Homo sapiens: one gene and its partners. The protein of the gene in region 6 purifies or fractionates together with the protein of the main gene of each other region. This does not show direct contact. Each region holds a gene or a part of one and is shown on either strand. Other genes may lie near its edges. The genes, in order: ARID4B, ADNP, WARS1, XRCC4, GNPDA1 and NT5C2.

Region 1 (3,500 bases), on a different chromosome or scaffold from region 6:
TAAATTTCTAACTTCATACAAGTACTTCCTGTTATTATAAGTATAGCAAATCTCAGAGAATTTGCTAGTAATTATTAGTACTAAAAACTTAGCTTATTTCTTACAACTTTATTTCTTATGTGATAAAAGATGAGAAGCTTCTTGTAATTTGTATTTTGCTTTAGCAAAAATTGCAATTCAGAATCTATTTAATGTTGAGTGTATTAGGCCTAAATTTTGTTTCTTTTTCTGTGTGTTCCCAATTTCTTTCGTTCTTTTTTATTTTTCTTTTTGATATAGAGTCTCACTATTTCACCCTGGCTGGCACGATCTGTAACTGCTGCCTCCTGGGCTCAAATAATCCTCCCACCTCAGCCTCCTGAGTAGCTGGGACTACAGGCACACCTGGCTAATTTTTGTAGTTTTTGTAGAGATGAGGTTTTGCCGTGTTGCCCAGGCTGGTGTCGAACTTCTGGGCTCAGGTGACTCTCCCGCCTTAGCCTCCCAAAGTGCTGGGATTACAGGCGAGAGTCACCGTGCCTGGTGTAATTTCTGTATTACGATGATCATTGAGCTACAGAAGGTTTTATGCCATTTATTGGATCTTACCAAACATATTTGTACTTGGGAGCAAGCTTTTAAGTTTGAATTGTCTGTTGTATTAACGACAACAAATCTTTAAATTTTATTAAGTGACAGTTTATTGAGGTGATTGAAAGTTAGATTATGTAGTAATACTTTTTAGGTGTTGTTTTAAAGTTGAAGTGTTGTATGTTTTAGCAGTTTTCCCATGTACTACCTTTAAGAATTTATGTAAACAAATACATTCCCATTACTGTCTAATATATGCTATGTTACTTTTTTCACAGTATGTTTTTGAGGAATATGATTCGTAATACATAAGGAATTTGTGCTGTAACATAGATCGTGATGTTGGTGTTATGTTGAATTTATTTTTCATGCTCTTGATAGACTTTTAAAAATCAGTGGTGCCGGCTGGGCATGGTGGCTCACGCCTGTAATCACAGCACTTTGGGAGGCCGAGGTAGGAGGATCACCTGAGGTCAAGGGAGTTTGAGACCAGCCTGGCCAGCGTAGTAAAACCCTGTCTCTTCTAAAAATACAAAATTAGCTGGGCATGGTGGCACACACCTGTAATCCCAGCTATTCGGAAGGCTGAGGCAGGAGAACTGCTTGAACCCAGGAGGCGGAGGTTGCAGTGAGCTGAGGTTGCGCCACTGAACTCCAGCCTCGGCGAAAAAAGTGAAACTCTCTCTCTCAAAAAAAAAAAAACTAAATAAAATAAAATAAAAATCAGCAGTACCACATTATAAGGAGGTGGTAGATTATTAAAGTTTGTAAATAATTCCAAGACTTATTTTTATTATGTCAGGTTGATTTTTACTTTTTTTTTTTAAGACGGACTTTTGCTCTTGTTGCCCAGGCCGGAGTGCAGTGGTGCGATCTCGGCTCACTGCAACCTCTGCCTCCCAGGTTCAAGCAGTTCTCCTGCCTCAGCCTCCTGAGTAACTGGAATTATAGGCATGCACCATCATGCCGGGCTAATTTTGTGCTTTTAGTAGAGACAAGGTTTCTCCATATTGGTCAGGCTGGTCTCGAACTCCTGACCTCAGGTGATCTGCCCGCCTCGGCCTCCCAAAGTGCTGGGATTACAGGCGTGAGCCACTGCGCCCGGCCGATTTTTACTTTTTTTAAACTCAAACTTTTTTTTCCTGTATCTATATTGTACATGTTATTAACGTCTTTTATTACGTAGCAGTAAATTTTCAATTAAAATGGGCTGGTTGGGCTGGATATACCAGAATCTTTAGAGGAGGAATGATTTAGATGATTATACTTTGGCGGGCATGGTGGCTCATGCTTGTAATCCCAGTACTTTGGGAGGCTGAGGTGGGTGGATTACTTGAGGTTGGGAGTTCAAGACCAGCCTGGCCAAAGTGATGAAAACCCCGTCTCTACTAAAAGTATAAAAAAATTAGCTGGGCATGGTGGCGCATGCCTGTATTCCCAGCTACTCAGGAGACTGAGGTAGGATCGCTTGAACCTAGGAGGTGGAGGTTGCAGTGAGTCGAGATGGCACCACTGCACTCCAGCTTGGGTGACAGGGAGACCCCATTTCAGGAAAAAAAAAAAAAAAAAGGTGGTTATATTTAGAATCCACGTAGATTGAATTTTCCAGATGTACTTTTCTTTCTTCAACAATGATTGGCTTAGGCCACATGAAAAAATAATGGATTGATTACAAATTCCCTTTTTTAATGCCCTGTGTGTGTGTACATGTTCTCTCTCTCTCTCCCCCTACCTCTACCTTTGTTTGTCTCCCTATCCACTCTGTCAGTTCGTTCCCCCCTCTCTGTTCTTTTCCTTCCCCCTCTTCCTTCTGTCTCACCCCTTTCATAAGTCATTCATTTAACAACAACCCGTTTCATATATCAGGTAATATAGAATGAAGGTGGGTGAGGCATCTGACCTGCTTTCAGGGAGCCCACAGTGTAGCAGAAGATGCAGATAAATAAAGCAAAACTCCTAGCATATCTATTTATGAGTATTCCAACATAAAATAATTGTAGGAAATGCTATGAGAGGACAGAAGAGGACAGCTAAATCAGAGAGCTATGGAAAGTTTTCTGGTGGAGTTGACATCTAAGCTGAGTGCGAAGGCTTTTGCTAGGCAAAGAAGGGAAGAAAAGTTTTTCAGATAGAGGATAACGTACTGGAAAATGAACGAAACAAGGTGAAGTATCTGGAAACTGTAAGTAATTTGGTGTGACTGAATTAACTTAAAGCATGATATGTTTGGGTAGGAATAAAAGGGCAGTGGTGGGAGATGAAGCTGAGTGAGGGAGTCGAAAATTTTCTTGGCCAGGCATGGTGTCTCACACCTGTAATCCCAGCACTTTGGGAGGTTGAGGCAGGTGGATCACCTGAGTTCTATACCAGCCTGGCCAACATGGTGAAACCCTGTTTCTACTAAAAATACAAAATTAGCAGGGCATGGTGGTGTGAGCCTGTAATGCCAGCTATTAGGGAGGCTGAGGCAGAAGAATAGCTTGAACACGGGAGGTGGAGGTTACAGTGAGCCGAGATCATGCCATTGCACTCCAGCCTGGGTGACAAGAGCAATACTCTGTCTCAAAAAAAAAAAAATTTTTTCTTGAAAACTACATGGAACCATTGAAAGTTGTTGAGAATTGCTTGAACCCAGGAGCTGGAGGTTGCGGTGAGCTGAGATCAGGCCACTGCAAAAACAAGGGGAGAGCTGAATGTAAGGATGGAAATTCCAGGTAAGAAGTCCAAGTGGAAAATGAATAAGGGCCTGAACTAATGCATTGGAAGTGGAGCAGAGAGGATAGATCTGAGCCTTTTTGAAGTAGAATTCAGGGCCGGGCACAGTGGCTCACACCTGTAATCCCAGCACTTTGGGAGGCTGAGGTGGGTGGATCATGAGGTCAGGAGATTGAGACCATCCTGGCTAACACAGTGAAACCCCGTCTCTACTA
Region 2 (3,500 bases), on a different chromosome or scaffold from region 6:
CTTAATGATGGGATGCATTCTGAGAAATGCCCTGTTAGGTGATGTCATTGTTGTACAAACATCATAAAGGGTACTTACACAGACCTAGGTGGTATAGCCTCCTATTACCCCTACGCTATATGGTATGGCCTGTTGCTCCTAGGCTACAAACTTGTATGGCATGTTACTATAAGAGAATACTATATACTGAATACTATAAGAGTGATTAACACAATGGTAAGTATTTGTGTTTCTAAACATAGTGAAGCATAGAAAAGGTACAGTAAAAATGCAATATAAAAGAAAAATTGGTACACCTATATTGGGCACTTGCGGGACTGGAAGTTGCTCTGAGTGGTGACTGAATATGAAGGGACATTATTGTACATCACTGTAGACTTTATAAACACACTTAGGCTACATAAAAAGTAAAACTTTAAAATTCTTAACTTCTGAATCTTTTGTAATAACACTTAGCTTAAAACACAAACACGGCAACCTGCCCGGGTCCCCTTCCACACTGCGGAAGCTTTGTCCTTTCACTCTTCATAATGAATCTTGCTACCGCTCCAAAAAAAAAAAAAAAAAAAATTGTACAGCTGTATAAAAATATTTTGTCTTCATATGCTTACAGGCTTTTTCCTAGTCTTAAACTTTTTTTTTTTTTTTAACTTTTTAAACTGTTGTTAAAAACTAAGACACAGACATAATTAGCCTAGGCCTACACAGGGTCAAGATCAATGGTATTACCATTGCCACCTTCACAGCTTGTCTCACTGGAAGGTTTTCAGGAGCAGTAACACGCATGGAGCCATCATTTCCTGTGATGGCAGTGTCGTCTTCTAGATACCTCCTGAAGGATCTGGCTGAGGCTGTTTTAGAGTTAACTTTTTTTTAAAAAATATAGAAGTAAGTGGTACACTCAAATAATGATTAAAAACTCATTACCGGCCGGGCGCTGGGCTCATGCCTATAATCCCAGCACTTTGGGAGGCCGAGGCAGGTGGATCGCCTGAGGTCAGGAGTTCGAGACCAGCCTGGCCAACATGGTGAAACCCCCTCTCTACTAAAAATACGAAAATTCGCCAGGTGTGGTGGCAGATGCCTGTAATCCCAGCTACTGGAGGTTGGAAGTGGGAGCGGGGAAGGCAGGAGAATCGCTTGAACCTGGGAGGTGGAGGTTGCAGTGAGCTGAGATCGTGCCATCGCACTCCAGCCTGGGGGACAAAAGCAAGACTTCATCTCAAAAAAAAAAAAAAAACCTCATTACCAAAATCCTTGCATACTTAAGTCCCACAGTTGGCCCTGGAGAACCTGCATATACCAAAAGCTAGCCCTCTGTATAAGAGGGTTTGAGCATCCCAAGAATACTGTATCTTTGATCTACATTTGTTTGGAAAAAATCCACATATAAGCAGTTCAAACCTATGTTGTTGAAGAGTCAACTGTATAGTAAATACTAGGTGACAGAAATTTTTCAGCCCCGTTATAATCTTGGGGGAACATAGTCCCATATGCAGTCTGTACTAGACAGAAAACATCAGCACATGACTTCCTGATAATGACAGTTAAAAACCGTATTGCCAGTTTATGTATTTACTATATATACTTTTTATTTTAGAGTGTACTCCTACTTTTTAAAACAGCTTTTCATGGTAACTGGTAGCAGCCTCATACAGCTTGTGTTCACTGTGTCTCTTGATTGCATCATTCTTGTGCATGGTTTAATCTCATGGTATTTTGTTCATCATGGCCCCTAAGCATACAAAATCCATAATGTTGCCAGTAAGGGGCCATGTTGAGTGATTGACCTGGAAACAGAAGTGATTAAGGACTACGAAGGTGGAGAATCAGTGATGGTTATTTCTTGCCAGTCAGGCTTGTCCCATTTTACCATAGCTATGATCTTGAAGAACAAGAACAAAGTGACAGAAGCTGTTAAAGCATCTGCTTCATTGAAGGCAATGAGACTAACAAAAATTCAAGAAGGGCCTTTATCAGACACACACAAGCTTCTGATGACCTGGATTGAAGAGCAGACACAGGTGCACACGGTGCTGTGTACCTCTCAGCACCATGATGATCCCAAAGCAAAAAGTGTGTTTGAGGTGTTGAAAGAAAAGGCTGGACCTGGCTGTGATGTTGAATTGACTGCTAGTTCTGGGTGGTGTAAACAATTCAAGAATCGTTATTCATTACATAATGGGAAAGTGGTGAGTTTGTGAGTGCTGATGTAAAGGCAGCGGAAGAATTTTGGGAAACTCTAGATAAGCTGAGTCTGGAGGAAAATCACTTGCCAGAACAAATTTTCAATATGGATGAAACCTTTCTATTCTGGAAACAGATGCCTGAAAGGACTTTGATCCATGAGGTAGACCAAAGCAATGCCAGGCTTCAAGTCTTTTAAGGACTGGATGACAGTCTTGCTTGGGGGCAATGTTGCAGGCCACAAATTGAAACCCTTTGTGATTTGGCATGTTGAGAACCCTAGGGGCTTCAAGCATATCAATACACACACACTTGGCCAGTGCACTGCAGGAGATATAAGAAGTCGTGGGTGACCCTGCTCCTCTTTCAAGATGCCCTCCTGAATAGATATGCCTGCGAAGTGGAGAAGTAGTATTGAGAGAATAACATACCCTTCAAGCTTTTGCTTATTGTCGCTGATAAGCAAATGCCTCCTTTAAGTGGTGTTTTTCATCCCAGTATCAAACACCACCTCTTTGATCCAACTGATGGAGTTACAGCAGCTTTTAAGGCGTACTATCTGAGAAAGGCCTTTGTCCTGTCGTCGCAGCTTAGGGAGACACTGAGAAGATTCTGATACAATTCTGGAAGGATTGCAATATCTGTGACTGCATTAAGAATCTTGCTTGGGCTTGGGTTGATGTCATCAAGGAGTGTATGAATGGCATCTGGAAGAATACACTCAAGAGGTTTGTCCATGACTTAAAAGGATTTGCATAAATCACAAAGTCTGTGATTGAGATGGCAAACAACTTTAACCGGGGTGTGGATGAGGACAACAGGAGCTCCTAGAGGTGATTCCTGAGGAATTGACTGGTGAGGAGCTGTGGGAACTAGAACAAGTTCCCGCATAGGTGAAGAGGAAAGAGAAAAGGAAACTGCAGGAAAAGCAAAAGAAGAACCCTCAAGAAAATTCAGTGAAGGATTTAGCAGTGCAGACCTCAGCAAGCTCCTTAAGTCTGAAAACACGTGGCCGGGCTTGGTGGCTCACGCCTGTAATCCCAGCATTTTGGGAGGCCGAGGCTGGTGGATCATCTGAGGTCAGGAGTTCAAGACCAGCCTGGCCGACATGGTGAAACCCCGTCTCTACTAAAAATACAAAAAAATTAGCCGGGCGTGGTGGTGGGGCGCCTGTAATCCCAGCCACGAGGCTGAGGCAGGAGAATCGCTTGAACCCGGGAAGTGCAGGTTGCAGTGAGCCGAGATTGTGCCATTGCACTCCAGCTTGGGTGACAAGAGCAAAAAAACTGCATCTCAAACAACAACAAAAAAGT
Region 3 (3,500 bases), on a different chromosome or scaffold from region 6:
CTACTTGGGAGGCTGAGGCAGGAGAGTCACTTGAACCCGGGAGGCAGAGGTTGCAGCAAGCTTAGATTGCACCATTGCACTCCAGCCTGGGAAACAAGAGTGAAATTCCCTCTCAAAAAATAAAAAATTATAACCAAAACACCTCAGTCATTGAGGAAACCATCTATTCTAGAGGAACACAACCCTACAGACTTGGGAGGCTCAGCTGCCTTCGTGGAGAACCCAGCAAAATCATGTACCTTTGACGCATTTCCCGCTTTGAGGGACCTTACGAGCTCCCCTTGTGTGGCGATGCTGTTGAACAGCTCCAGCAGAGATGCGGGCTCACTGTTGGGCATGTTTGCTATCTCTCAGGAACTACGTTCACAGCCGGCCTGAGGTCAGAGGATTTGTTCAGCAGACGAGTCAAGACTGGGGTGGGGGCGGGGAAGGAGAGAGAGGAAAAACCAGAGGTTAACACAACATCGCGGCTGTTTTTCCTTTCCTGTATTGAGTCCTTTTTTCCGAAAAGGTTGTGAGGTGAGTTACAGTAAAGGACATAGATAATATAATAAAAAGAGAACCAGAAATTTGGGGCCATGAAGAAGAGGAAAACCATCAAATGCCAGTGATGAAGACTAAAGGAGTGGCTAGGATTTACTGACTTAAGGTGTGAATCTACTTGACTAGGAGGGGCCCTCCTAGTCAAGATCAAGTTTGCATCTGGTGATGCCCCTGTGCCCCCACCCAGTGCCCAGAACACAGGAGGACTCCTGTTTGCTCAGGGTATAAATACCAATGTGTTTTAATGAACTTAAGTTCATTGCTAAAAACTTTTGGCAAATTACTATTTGATTTTTTTTTTTTTTGAGATGGAGTCTCGCTCTGCCACCCAGGCTGGAGTGCAATGGTGTGATCTTGGCTCACTGCAACCTCCACCTCTGGGGTTCAAGCGATTCTTCTGTCTCAGCCTCCTGAGGCTGCCTGCCACCATGCCCAGCGAATTTTTGTATTTTTAGTAGAGGGAGGGTTTCACCATGTTGGCCAGGCTGGTCTTGAACTTCTGACCTCAGGTGATCCTCTCACTTCAGCCTCCCGAAAGTGTTGGGATTATAGGTGTGAGCCAAGGCACCCATCCTCTATTTGTGGTTTATCTTAATTGCCTTGGGGATGAATTCTTGGGCTTTTGCAGCCATAACTAATATATCGCTGAGCAAATGTCTTCCACTGCTGGTCAGCTGCTCTCAGACAAAGTGAGCTCTGGGGTGGAGGACAGGGCCTTACCTGTCCTAGGTTCCACATGAGGTAAGGACTGTCTCCAGTCTGTCCATTCCACGTGCTGCCTTATTTAACTACAAGCCTTTGCAGAAGGTGTGTCTGCACCTCCTATTAGTCATGATTCATTATAACCCTTGCAGGAAGTGGGGACATGGCAGACAGAGACTGTATCGCCATCAAACCTTTCTTGGCTCAATCACTTCCTAAGAGTCAAGTTTCCTAACCTATAAAATGGCGCCACCAGGAACTTCATCTACCCCAGGCTCTTATGAGAACAAAATGAGAAAAAAAAGGCATGGTAGCACTTTGTAAACTGTAAAGCAAGATGTAACTACGTTACGAGTGCTGTTATTAAATTTCTTGTGTTTCTTAGGATTCCAAAGATTGGCTGAACTCCAGCTTCATTTTAACTTGCTGTAAAACCTTGGAGAAGGAAAATGACAAGGCTAGTGCCTGAGCTGCTAACTTTGAACACCTCTGTACCTGTTATTGTTCTAAGCACCGTATATGTATCAATTCACTTAAGCCTTGCAGCAGTCCTATGAAATAGATTTGTAATCTCCATTTTATAGATGAGGCACAGAGGGGTTAAAAAAAACTTGCCCATGGCTGGGCATGGTGGCTCATACCTGCAACCCTGGCACTTTGGGCAGTATAGTGAGACTCTACAAAAAAATGAAAAAAAAAAAAATTAGCTGGGCATGGTGGTGGGCCTGTAATCCCAGCTACTTGGGAGGCTATAGCAGGAAGATCACTTGAGCCCAGGAGTTCGAGGCTTCAGTGAGCTACGTTTGCGCCACTGTACTCCAGCCCGGGTGACAGAGTAAGACCCTGTCTCTAAAAATAAAAATAAAATAAAATAAAACTTGCCCATGTTAACATCACAAGGAAATGGCAGAGATGCGTTATAGACTCTAGTAGTTTGACTCTAGAGCCTACACTTTCAACCATTATCTTACAAATGACTTATCTTTATGAACCAAACATATACATTTGTGGTGTCATTTATTTTACTCTATCCTATCCATTTGTTAAATATTTGCTTTAAAAGTACGTAAATTGGCTGGGTGTGGTGGCTCACGCCTATAATCCCAGCACTTTGGGAGGCTGAGGTGGGTGGATCACCTGAGGTCAGGAGTTTGAGACCAGCCTGGCCAACATGGTGAAACCCCGTCTCAACTAAAAATAGAGAAAAATTAGCTGGGCATGGTGGCGCACACCTGTAGTTCCAAATACCTGGGAGGCTGAGGTGGGAGAATTGCTTGAAACCAGGAGGTGGAGGTTTCAGTGAGCTGAGATCACACCACTGCACCCCAGCCTGGGTGACAGAAAGGTTCTGTCTCAAAAAAAAAAAAAAAAAAAAGTAGGCCAGGTGTGGTGACTCATGCCTGTAATCCCAGCACTTTGGGAGGCCAAGGAGGGTGGATCAAGACCAGCCTGGCCCACATGGTGAAACCCCATCTTCACTAAAAATACAAAAATTAGCCAGGCATGGTGGCATGTACCTGTAGTCCCAGCTACTTGGGAGGCTGAGGCATGAGAATCACTTGAACCTGGGAGGCAGAGGTTGCAGTGAGCTGAGACCATGCCACTGCACTCCAACCTGGGCAACAGAGAGAGACTCTGTCTCAAAACAAAAAAAATTCCAAAAAGTATGTAAATCACGGGTGCTGTGAGCGGTGGCTCACAACTGCAGTCCAAGTGCTTTGGGAAGCAGAGGCGATTGCTTGAGCTCAGGAGTTCAAGAGCAGCTTGGGTAATGTCAGGTCTCTGAGCCCAAGCTAAGCCACCATATCCCCTGTGACCGGCACGTACACATCCAGATGGCCTTAACTGATGACATTCCTTCACAAAAGAAGTGAAAATGGCCTGTTCCTGCCTTAACTGATGACATTCCCTTGTGAAATTCCTTCTCCTTGCTCATCCTGGCTCAAAAGCTCCCCTGCTGATCACCTTGTGACCCCTGCCACCTGCCCGCCAGAGAACAATCCCCTTTGACTATAACTTTCCTTTACCTACCCAAATCCTATAAAACGGCCCCACTCCTATCTCCCTTCCATGACTCTCTTTTTGGACTCAGCCCGCCTGCAGCCAGGTGAAATAAACAACCTTGTTGCTCACACAAACCCTGTTTGGTGGTCTCTTCACACGGACACGAGTGACACGAGTGAAAGGTAACATGGATAGTGAGACCCTGTCTCTCCAAAAAATTTTTATAAAATAAAAAAACAAAAATTGAAAAA
Region 4 (3,500 bases), on a different chromosome or scaffold from region 6:
GGATTACAGGCATGCACCACCACGCCTGGCTGATTTTTGTATTTTTAGTAGAGATGGGGTTTCACTATGTTGGCCATGCTGGTCTCAAACGCCTGACCTCAAATGATCTACCTGCCTCGGCCTCCCAAAGTGCTGGGATTACAAGTGTGAGCCACTGTGCTCAGCCAACCAGGACAAATTTTATAGGGCTGTTGTTATTTAGAAATGTCTTTTTATTTTTTATTTTTTTGGAGACAGGGTCTCACTCTGTTGCCCAGGCTGGAGTGCAGTGGCGCAATCTCAGCTCACTGCAACCTCTGCCTCCCAGGTTCAAGCAATTCTCATGTCTCAGCCTCCCGAGTAGCTGAGATTACAGGCATGCACCACCACTCCCGGCTAATTTTTGTATTTTTGGTAGAGATGGGGTTTCACCAGGTTGGCCAGGCTGGACTTGAAATTCTGACCTCTGGTGATCCACCTGCTTTGGCCTCCCAAAGTGCTGGAATTACAGGTGTGAGCCACCACTCCTGGCCTAGAAATGCCTGATTTTTTAATTAAACCTTGTTTAGAGGTTATATAAAACAGAGATATCTATTTAGCTGATGGCCAAAAAAATTCAACCAAATTAGAACATTCAAGAACATAAAGATCATGGTTAGGCATTTAGGTACGAACATTCAGTTCAGGTATGTCTGATTTAATATCTAAGGGATTTCTTTGACTCAGGACAAAATGAGAAAGAGAGAGAACCAGCCAATGTCTTAGAAAACTGTTTTTGAAAAAAAAAACTAGATAAAAACTGAGAAATTAAATTAAGGCACATACACAGTTGATCGCTGAACAACTGAAGGTTTGTTCTGTGTGGGTCCACTTACACTCTAAAGTTTCTCAATAAAAGTTACACCAACTGTGTCCACCTCTCCTGCCTCCTCTTCCACCTCCTCTACCTCTGCCACCTCTGCCACCTCTGCCAGCCCAGAGACAGCAAGATCAATCCTTCTCTTCCTCTTCCGCCCCAGCCAGCTCAACATGAAGACAAGAATGAAGACCTTTATGATGATCGACTTCCACTTAATGAATAGTAAATATATTTTCCTTTCATTATGATTTTCTTAATAACATTTACTTTTTTCTAGCTTACTTTATTGTAAGAATACAGTACATAATGCATATAACACACAAAACATATGTTAATCAACTGTTTATGTTATTGATGAGGCTTCTGGTCAACAATAAACTATTAGTAGTTAAGTTTTGAAGGAGCCAAAAGTTATACATGGATTTTCAACTGCGTGAGAGGTTGGCATCCCTAACCCCTATATTGTTCAAGGGTCAACTCTATAGCTAATTACAATGTACGCTACTATATGGACTTAATAAATCATTCATTTCTTCTAAGAACTCATACAATATTATGAACTGGTTAAATGATTAGATTACTATTTAAAAGCCACCTATCACTACCATTAGAAAGGAGAAGCAATGAGAAAACAAGTCCTGATACCCATGTTTTATGTTCTTAAGATTGTTTTAGGACTGTCGTTCAAAGAATTGCTAAGTTTAAACTTCTTCTAGAAGTCCGCAAAACAATGTAAGATTGTGTGGTTCTAATGACTTGATATAAAAGCTCAAATGTCTACTTTGCATCAAAAAGCTTTTTGTTAAAATACAGTGATATTCAGATGGGAATTAACAGTGGTGATCTATAATATGATTTTCTACTGAGACATGCTTGTCAGATAATGACAACAAGGTCATATTCCCTTATCACATCTAAAGTGCAAAAACTTCTATTTTCTATGTTGCCATTTAAGAAGTTATCAGAGTATAAACTTTTGTCTCCCCAAATTAATATCTAAGTCATCATGAGCCAATTTCTCCTTAAGAACAATGTTGAAAATGAAGGGTTAGTTCCTAAACACAACACTTGGCAAGTTTTTAAAATTCAATTTATAGATGAGTATCACAGCACAGCTAATTTACAAATTTATAAATAGCAATGATACTGTCATTTTATGTTAAACCCATACATGGAACTCTATTAGTATACTATATCATACAAGCATCTACCTAAAAATTACAAAAAAAATCATAAACATTTAAACTTTAACTTTTTAAGTGCCCCAACGTTTAGACAGATGTAATTTTATTTTCCCTGAGCAGCTGTTCATTTGGACATGTTCCGTATTTATTGATATACTGTGTCCAATGCTAGGGTCACATTTCTTAAACAGGAACTTGGCAACTTCCAAATTCTATGGTAAATATTGACATGTCTCAGCATGTCAATATTTATACTGTCAAGACTTTGACAGGTTTCAACAATGGCTGCATCTCATTTCTTAGCAGCCATGTGCTTCTGTTTCAAATGAGCAAGTTCCTTCTTTATCCAATAAAATTCTCATTCACTGCTCAGGTAAAATTAGAAGTAAGTTAATAGCATTCTCTCACACAAGACCAGATTGAACTCTTTGCTTACTTCAACATTTTAGTCACTTCTGTAGGATTAGCAAAGCTATGGAAATGAACACAAATTCAGGATACAATGTCCTCCAGGTAATATTTGTTTTTGATTACTTAATCTCAAGCCTAATTATCATTTGCAACGACATTACTAATGTGGAAGCCTTTTCAGAATCTATAGAGCTAATCGATTTCCTTTTTTGTTAGTCTTAAGGGCTAGGTGAAGATAAAACTGCTTTAGTTTATAGGCTGCGACAATAATGATAATATTCAGAAGGCAGTTTGAACTCAGGATGCCAATCATAAAGAGTAGTTGGGAAGTCTAGCTCATTATCTAGGATTAAACAAACAGTATTTTAAACGCAAAATTAGTTTACCTAATTTTGTGCTACGTGTCAGAGATACTGTTAACAAACTAATCATAATTAAATCAATCTTAAGAGCAAATTTCGGTACTGCTGAAAGAAAATCTTTGCAACATCTTTAAACACTCTGGGATTTCCCAATGGTACACAAGTTTAATGTAACATGAAGTTACTGGTAGTAATGGCATCTAGCAAAAACATAAATGCCTCATGAACAGTTTGGAATTTTGGCATGTATTTCTTCTTTGGCAAGTATTTCTTCTTTTTGGCAACACAAATCTCAAGAATGTTTTCCTCCCCAAAAGTGCCTAATTTCATCAACATTAAAAATTTGCTGTCTGCAATTGAACCCTGATCAATGATTTCAGCCAATGCCTTAGAAAAAGGCACAACTCACTTTCATCAGGGCTGGCAGCTTCCGCAATAACAAGGAGCAAATTGTCCAGGGCTATACAATGCATTAACTCCCTCCTACTTGTATCAAAAGGATACAGTACCTTTCAATTATTTTAAAGACAGCCATCTTTTTCCTAAGAAACAAGGTATAGCAAATAAGCCATTGATTTTACACTCAAAAGACCCAGGTTGGAATCAAAACTATGCTTCATAGCTGAGTGTCCTTGATCATGCCATTAATGCATTAAAACATTCACTGATTACTTCCTATGTACCAGGATTTGATATCCCAAAGAT
Region 5 (3,500 bases), on a different chromosome or scaffold from region 6:
CCATCTGTGGCCACAGGGCTTGGCCAGAGTAACTGCACACCAAGGGCCTGGGAAATCCCCACATTCTGATCTGATCTGCTTTTCATAAGGCAATGACCATAGGTTAGAGGCTGGGGACACTCTGGCCACCTGGGGTAGGGCTGAACTCATCTTAGAAAGCAAGCAAGCACACCCCTCACCCTGTGCCTCTCAACCCACCATCCACTCCCAGTTCTACCCCACTCAGCCTGAATAAATCCCAGCTTGAACACCAGGTGGTTAGAGAGAACTATCTTAGGGCTTCCCCAGATCAACTTTTTTTTTTTTGGCCAGGAAAAAAAAATAATGTTTAATGTTAAGCATTAAGAATATGTAAAATCAGCCTTAAAAAGGAAGGAAATTTTGACACACACTACAACAATGGATGAACCTTGTGGACTTTATGCTAGGTGTAAGAAGCCAGTCAAAAAGACAAATACTTTATGATTCCAGTTATATACTCTAGTTTGATTCTAGAGTAGTCAAATTCATAGAAACAGACAGTAAAATGGTGGTTTCCGTGGCTGGTGAAGTGGGAAATGAGAAGTTGTTGTTTCACGGGTATAGAGCCTGAGTCTTACAAGATGAAAAGAGTTCTGGAAATTGGTTGCACAACAATGTGAATGCACTTAACACTACTGAACTATACACAGAAAGGTGGTTAAGATGGTAAATGTCATGTTACATGTATTTTACCACAATTTTTTTTTTAAAAAAAGGATGTTTAAAATGAAGCTATTACAAAAGGACTGGGTGAGGGAGAGGTGATAGAAGACCAAGGTATAGTCTTTCAGCAGCAGGAAGGATACCAATCTCAGGTCCCCTTCAAGTGTACCTGGCAGAAAGGGGAGCTGGAGGCCACACACAGAAGAGAAAGCACAGACACAGATCCTAGGGGAAACACCCGAGCCAGGATCCCACTTGCAATCATTTGTTCCAGAAAGAAATGGAATGGAGTTGAGGAGCAGGCAGAGGAGAAGGAGATACTCTAATATTTATTAAGTATTTGTTATGTATAAGAAACTTCCACATCTTTTATCATAAAAGGATTAAATGAATTTAATGCTTACAACCTGTGAGGTCAGCTTTATTAGCCCCATTTTATAGCTGAGTAAACCAAGAGGTAAGTATTGATAATTGAGCCTATCATCAAATGTCACTGGCTCCCCGATTCCTCTCCAGGACTGGGCCAATGAGAGGAGGAGCATCACTCTCCTAGAATCAGGAAAGAACCTTGAAAGAGAAAGACTCACCCACGTACTCATCCATGTTGAAGGTCTTCACATATTTAAAGGACAGGTCCCCATTCTTATAGTATTCAATCAGCTTCTTGTAGCAGCCAAGTGGGGTACTCCCTGCAAGAGTGGCCACACCCATGAACACCCCTTGCACCCCAAGTCTGGAAGCCCAGAGGGTTCACAGGAATAAGTCAGGGCTGCTCACAGGGAGAACCTGTCAGATCTGAAGTCCTACCCAGTACTCCAATCCTAACTGCCATCCATCCATTAATTGCTTGTTTAATGCCTATTTTGCCACTAGACTGTAAGCTCCAGGAGGGCAGGACTGTGTCTGCCTTGATCACTGCTGAATCTCCCAGTATCCAGCACACTGATGACTGAAATCACTCTGATTAGTACCTGAGTGAACATCAGACTTCATTATTGACATGATACTCCCTGAACAAGTAATATGTGCAAGGCACAGGGCCATGTGATAAGGACACAGGGGAGCAAGGGACAGTAGCTACTCTAAGATAACTCACTAGGAGTAGAACACAAAGCAGGAACGTCAGTTGTGATAGGGTAAAGCACAGGCTCACCCAGTGCTTCAGGGTTCAAGGAAGACTTCCCTGAGGAGCAGCGAAGCCCTAGTTGAGTCTCATTAAAAAGTCAATGTCATGGCTAGGCATGGTGGCTCACGCCTGTAACCCCAACACTTTGGGAGGCCAAGGCGGGCAGATCACTTGAGGTCAGGAGTTCAAGACCAGCCTGGAAAACATGGTGAAACCCTGTCTCTACTAAAAATACACAAAGTAGCTGGGCATGGTGGCATGTGCCTGTAATCCCAGCTACTCGGGAGGCTGAGGCACAAGAATCACTTGAACCTGGGAGGCAGAGGTTGCAGTGGGCCGAGATTGCACCACTGCACTCCAGCCTGGCCAATAGAGCCAGACTCTATCTTGAAAAAAAAAAAAAGTCAATGTCATAAAAACACACACACAATAAAAGGTAGGAGGACACTGTATATTAAAAGACTAAAGATGCATGAACCCTGACTGGACACTGAATTAATTTTTTAAAAACCAACCTATAAAAGATAAATGTGGACAATTGAGAAAAAATTGTGAACACAGTTTGCATATTAGATGATGGCATGATTTTTCATTTTCTTAGGTATGATGGTATCATGGTTGTGTAGGAGAATGTCCTTATTCTCAGGAGATATGTGCTGAAGGATTTAGAGATAAGTGTCAGGATGTCTGGAACTTATTTTCATGTGGTTCAGAAAAAAAAAGTGTGTGTGTGTGTAGATAAAGAACAAGAGCCAGAGAAAGGTAAAAGCAAATGTGGCAAAATGGTAACAATTGGTGAATTTAGGTGAATGGTATTGACCTGTTTTTTTCCTCTTTTTTGAATATTTGAAATTTTGCAAACTAAAAAAATGAAAGAAAAAAAACCCATCGAGATTACGTCATGTCACCCCTCTTTTCAAAACCCACCAATAGCTTCTCATTTCACCCTCAGCAACACCAGTTATTCTAAGGCTCCACAGAACCTGGCCCCTGGCTATGAGACCCTCCCTGCCACCATATCCAACACTGCACAGCCCCACCCCTGCCGACACACTCCCTATCCTTTCCTGCTTCATGTTTCTCCTTTCCTCTTATCACCATCTAACATACTCTATATTTTGCTAATTATTATGTCTCTCCCATTATAATTTAAGCCTCAGAAGGCAGAAGTTCATATCCTTTTTGTTCATTGCTGTATCCTTAGAGGCTAGAACAGCTTTGCATACAGAGGGTACTCAATAAATACCTGCTGAGTGAATGGCAGCTCCCCGCAGCCCACCCAAAATAATTAGTTGGTCCGTGTGACAAGGCCTTAGCTATGCCTGAGCCACATAGCTTCCTCTCTCCTGCCATTTTCCAAACTTCTAGCCTTCCCATGAATTCTCTGAACTTCCCAGTATCTAGCCAATAAACTCCTTTTCTGCTTAATTTAGCTGGAGTTGGTTTCTGTGGTTTCCACTCAGAACCCTGACAGGTGCTACATCTAACAGAAGCAATGTTCCAAGGAACCCGTGTGGAAACGCTGTCCTGTTGGTTCAAGCAGGACAGGCAGGGAGAGGCCAGGTTTTGGAGGGCCTTGAATGCCACTCTGAAGAGCTTGGATCTGACTCTGCAATGATGGGAACGAGGGAATGGTTTCAGAAGGCCAGACTCTGACCCATACAGAGGTTGGGTCTCTCCACAGTTAGGA
Region 6 (3,500 bases):
CTCACATCACTTCTTATCTAGTTTTCATATTTCTGTTCATCGTACCAACCACCTCTCAGAGACACCTTAGCATGGACATCATCATCTTTGACTCTTTAATGTTCCCCCAGCCAAATCTGCTCAGTTTGCCGGGTCTTATTTTACCTTGGTAATCTCTCTTGAATATATGAGTGAGCTGAGATCACGCCACTGCACTCCAGCCTGGCCGACAGAGTGAGACTCTGTCTCAAAAAAAAAAAAAGAAAAAAGAAAAAATTCTGAGAGTCAACTGGGTGATTCTGGGTTGCACAGCTGATCTCTCTATGCTCTTTCACATGTCTGTGGTTAGCTGGTGGGTGACCTGGCATCTGATCTACAATGGCCTCATGCACATGTCTGGCATTCACAGGCTGTTGGCCGAGTGCTTCATTTCTACATGTAGCCTTCTATCCTCCAGCAGACTATCTCACTGTCATGCACATAGTAGTCCATGGTTCCAAGTGCTGCAAGAGAGATTAAGCCTCAATACACACATGTTTTTCTAGGTCTCTGCTTGGATCCCATTTGCTGCTATACAAGCCTATATTCAAGGATAGAGAAATAGACTGAGTTCTAATGGGAGGAGCCACAAAATTGCATCACAAAGAGACAGGAAGAATTTGTGGCCATTGTTGGAGTGCATCACATTGTCTTTCCCCAGTTTATCCTAAAACAGCCACTAATTTAATTTTGTTTTACAACTCAGCCCCGATGGGATTATCCTCTGCTTTAAAACTGTCAGTAGTACCCTCTTGCCCCTAAATGGTGTAGAAACAGTAGCTTAATCTGCCTCAACCCATCTTTCTAGCTTAATTTTTCTCTGCTCCCCTTTCTCTACCCAAGTTGGACTAGTTTCACAACTGGTCCACCTAGCCTTTAAGGCCCAGCTCATATACCAGCACGTGCATGAATCCTTCCTAGATTTTCCTCTCCTTAGTCCTCACATTTGCTTCTCTCTACCTCTTAAGTTGAAATGGTGTTCCCTTCTTTGGTTTTCTCATAAATGTTTGCACCTTTCTTGTAGTAGTTGTGATTTTTTACCTTATAATTATATGTGTATGTGACCCACCTCGCCCACCACACTGACAACTCTTTTAAGAGCTGGAACCTAAGCTGGACATCACACCTGTAATCCCAGCTACTTGGGAGGCTGAGGTGGGAAGATTGCTTGAGCAATCTTCAGGAGTTTGAGTCCAGCCTGGACTTAAAATAGCAAGACTGTCTTAAAAAAAAAAAAAAATTAAAATTAAAAAAAATAAAGAGCTGGAACCTGAACTCGTTCATCTTCATAGCTATCCATGCGTAATATTCGGAATTCTGTCTTGCACATAGCCATCAAAATATTTGAGTTAATTTTTGAATAATGCTATTTCCCAATTATTATAATGTTATTTTAAAAATCAGTTAATTTTTAAATTTTTCTTTCAGACCAGAAACTAGAGAACAGTATCCAAATAAATTTATCCAGCGAGATGATACTGAAAGATTTTACATTCTGAACACACTATTCAACCTACCAGGTAGATTCATTCTATGCTTATTTATACTGATGCTTTCCCTTCTGTGACCATTAGTCTGTATTCAAGGGAGGTAATGAAATAAGTTTGAATTATTTCATTATAGCTTATGAATATCTGTTCTTCATTTTTCAGAGACCTACCTGTTGGCCTGCCTAGTAGATTTTTTTACTAATTGTCCCAGATATACCAGGTATGTATATACTATAATTATTTTTTTCCAATTGATTTTTAAAATTAATGCACAGGGTTTTAGAGAACTGGCCATTGTAGGTCTTTTCTGCTTTTCTAAAGTGAATTTAGTGCTAGTGAGAGATGCCACATTGCCAACCTGAGAGATGGGACAGCACCAGCAGCTCCATGCAGGCTCTCACCTCCCACACGGCCCCTCTCCTTGCCAGTGTGCTGCAGCCACCACTTCTGATTGGCTTCTCCTGGGAATGAAGACGGCCAGCAGAGGTGCTAATTGTGACAACTGAGTGGGAGGTTTGTGTGATGATTATCTGTCCAAGCAGAATTACACTAAAACCCCCCAACTCATTTCACAGCAGCTACCCAGGAGCCATTCAGGGATGGTAATTTAATTTCATTCCCAGGCCAGGCAAGATTTGATTAAGGAATAAATACTGTGTATCTTATCAGAAGTAAAATTTTGCGTAAGTCTTAAACAAGTTATCCTCTCCCTTTAGGGAGAATTATATAGCCAATACTGAAAGTTTAGCCATCTATATACCAGAGTTGGCTAACTTCTTATCCTCTTTGGGCTTTATCCACTTGAAGACACTAAATTTGGTGGAAAGCTGAGTCACTGAACTAAATAAAAAAATGGACAGTACCTTTGTACTTAGGGACAGTGTCAGGAAAGTCAGGGTGGAAAGAACCTAAATGACCAATTTTAAGTTTTAAATGTTTCTTCAACCTGTTTCTAAAAAGTGATAAATAAAAAAACCTGACATTTTTGGAACTTTGGCCTTTTAGCTTCCATTCAATATATTCTTCTATCACTTTGTATTTGTTCACAATTACTGTATTCCATTGAACACTATAGCCATTTCTGGTGGTCAAAGTGGACTTTCATTAGGGAGTAATTATTTTCCTCATTAGCCACAGCCTTTACCCATGTGATATGGAACCTTTGGGTCCCCTGGGAAATTTTTGATATATATTTTGTTTACCCTGTTTTGGATCCCCTGTCATGTTATTTTTATCTTTCTGTAGTTGTGAAACAGGATTTAAAGATGGGGACCTCTTCATGTCCTACCGGAGTATGTTCCAGGATGTAAGAGATGCTGTTGACTGGGTTCATTACAAGGTACCTAGAAGCTGTTTCTTCACCTGCTTGCTTTCTGGCATGTATTTTATGGCGTGGCATTAACTTTCCAAATGGAGCAGAATATTTCTTTTTTTAAAAAAAGAAAAAACAGATTTGCCCCCGCCTAGTGATAGCCCTCTAGAATACATTTGTTCTTGTCTTTGGTCTCGGTGGTAATGTTGATCTTTCCTCAGTGATGGTGTTTGGCTTCTGGATTTTATTTTAGTTTGCATTTCTCAAACTTAGAAGAGGTTTTAGTGTATTACATTATACTTAACATATCCTTTGTGGATGACAGTGGTCCATTTTTTTTGTCCAGATACCTCCCACCCGACTAATAACATTAATAAATATTAAATTTACATGTATTATAAACTATTGAATAAAATATGAAATGCCTTTTAATTTCAAACTTAAAATAGAAACTGTTTTATATTTTGAAGACAAATTTTAGAGGCAGGGTTGCAGCAAATCATACCTGCTACTTTTTTCTGGCCTTCTCTAGTTTGTCCACTTTTCCATTTTGGTAAATCCTTAAGAAATGCATTTGGGGCTGGGCATGATGGCTCATGCCTGTAATCCCAGCACTTTGTGATGCCAAGGCAGGTGGATTGCTTGAGCTCAGGAGTTCAAGACTAGCCTGGGCAACATGA

What was found.
Region 1: the proteins of NT5C2 (region 6) and ARID4B fractionate together in Homo sapiens (co-fractionation; one large-scale study listed by BioGRID). This does not show direct contact.
Region 2: the proteins of NT5C2 (region 6) and ADNP fractionate together in Homo sapiens (co-fractionation; one large-scale study listed by BioGRID). This does not show direct contact.
Region 3: the proteins of NT5C2 (region 6) and WARS1 fractionate together in Homo sapiens (co-fractionation; one large-scale study listed by BioGRID). This does not show direct contact.
Region 4: the proteins of NT5C2 (region 6) and XRCC4 fractionate together in Homo sapiens (co-fractionation; one large-scale study listed by BioGRID). This does not show direct contact.
Region 5: the proteins of NT5C2 (region 6) and GNPDA1 fractionate together in Homo sapiens (co-fractionation; one large-scale study listed by BioGRID). This does not show direct contact.

What each region holds. Positions count from the first base shown.
Region 1 is NC_000001.11:235,321,680-235,325,179, reverse strand, and holds part of ARID4B (AT-rich interactive domain-containing protein 4B), read left to right. Parts: intron 1-3,500. UniProt on the Homo sapiens protein: Acts as a transcriptional repressor. May function in the assembly and/or enzymatic activity of the Sin3A corepressor complex or in mediating interactions between the complex and other regulatory complexes.
Region 2 is NC_000020.11:50,896,938-50,900,437, reverse strand, and holds part of ADNP (activity-dependent neuroprotector homeobox protein), read left to right. Parts: intron 1-3,500.
Region 3 is NC_000014.9:100,368,848-100,372,347, forward strand, and holds part of WARS1 (tryptophan--tRNA ligase, cytoplasmic), read right to left. Parts: intron 412-3,500; 5' UTR 339-411; coding exon 240-338; intron 1-239. UniProt on the Homo sapiens protein: Catalyzes the attachment of tryptophan to tRNA(Trp) in a two-step reaction: tryptophan is first activated by ATP to form Trp-AMP and then transferred to the acceptor end of the tRNA(Trp).
Region 4 is NC_000005.10:83,084,047-83,087,546, reverse strand, and holds part of XRCC4 (DNA repair protein XRCC4), read right to left. Parts: intron 1-3,500.
Region 5 is NC_000005.10:142,006,528-142,010,027, forward strand, and holds part of GNPDA1 (glucosamine-6-phosphate deaminase 1), read right to left. Parts: intron 1,374-3,500; coding exon 1,272-1,373; intron 1-1,271. UniProt on the Homo sapiens protein: Catalyzes the reversible conversion of alpha-D-glucosamine 6-phosphate (GlcN-6P) into beta-D-fructose 6-phosphate (Fru-6P) and ammonium ion, a regulatory reaction step in de novo uridine diphosphate-N-acetyl-alpha-D-glucosamine (UDP-GlcNAc) biosynthesis via hexosamine pathway.
Region 6 is NC_000010.11:103,099,273-103,102,772, reverse strand, and holds part of NT5C2 (cytosolic purine 5'-nucleotidase), read left to right. Parts: intron 1-1,446; coding exon 1,447-1,538; intron 1,539-1,670; coding exon 1,671-1,728; intron 1,729-1,808; exon of another isoform or gene 1,809-2,021; intron 2,022-2,091; exon of another isoform or gene 2,092-2,110; intron 2,111-2,753; coding exon 2,754-2,847; intron 2,848-3,500. UniProt on the Homo sapiens protein: Broad specificity cytosolic 5'-nucleotidase that catalyzes the dephosphorylation of 6-hydroxypurine nucleoside 5'-monophosphates.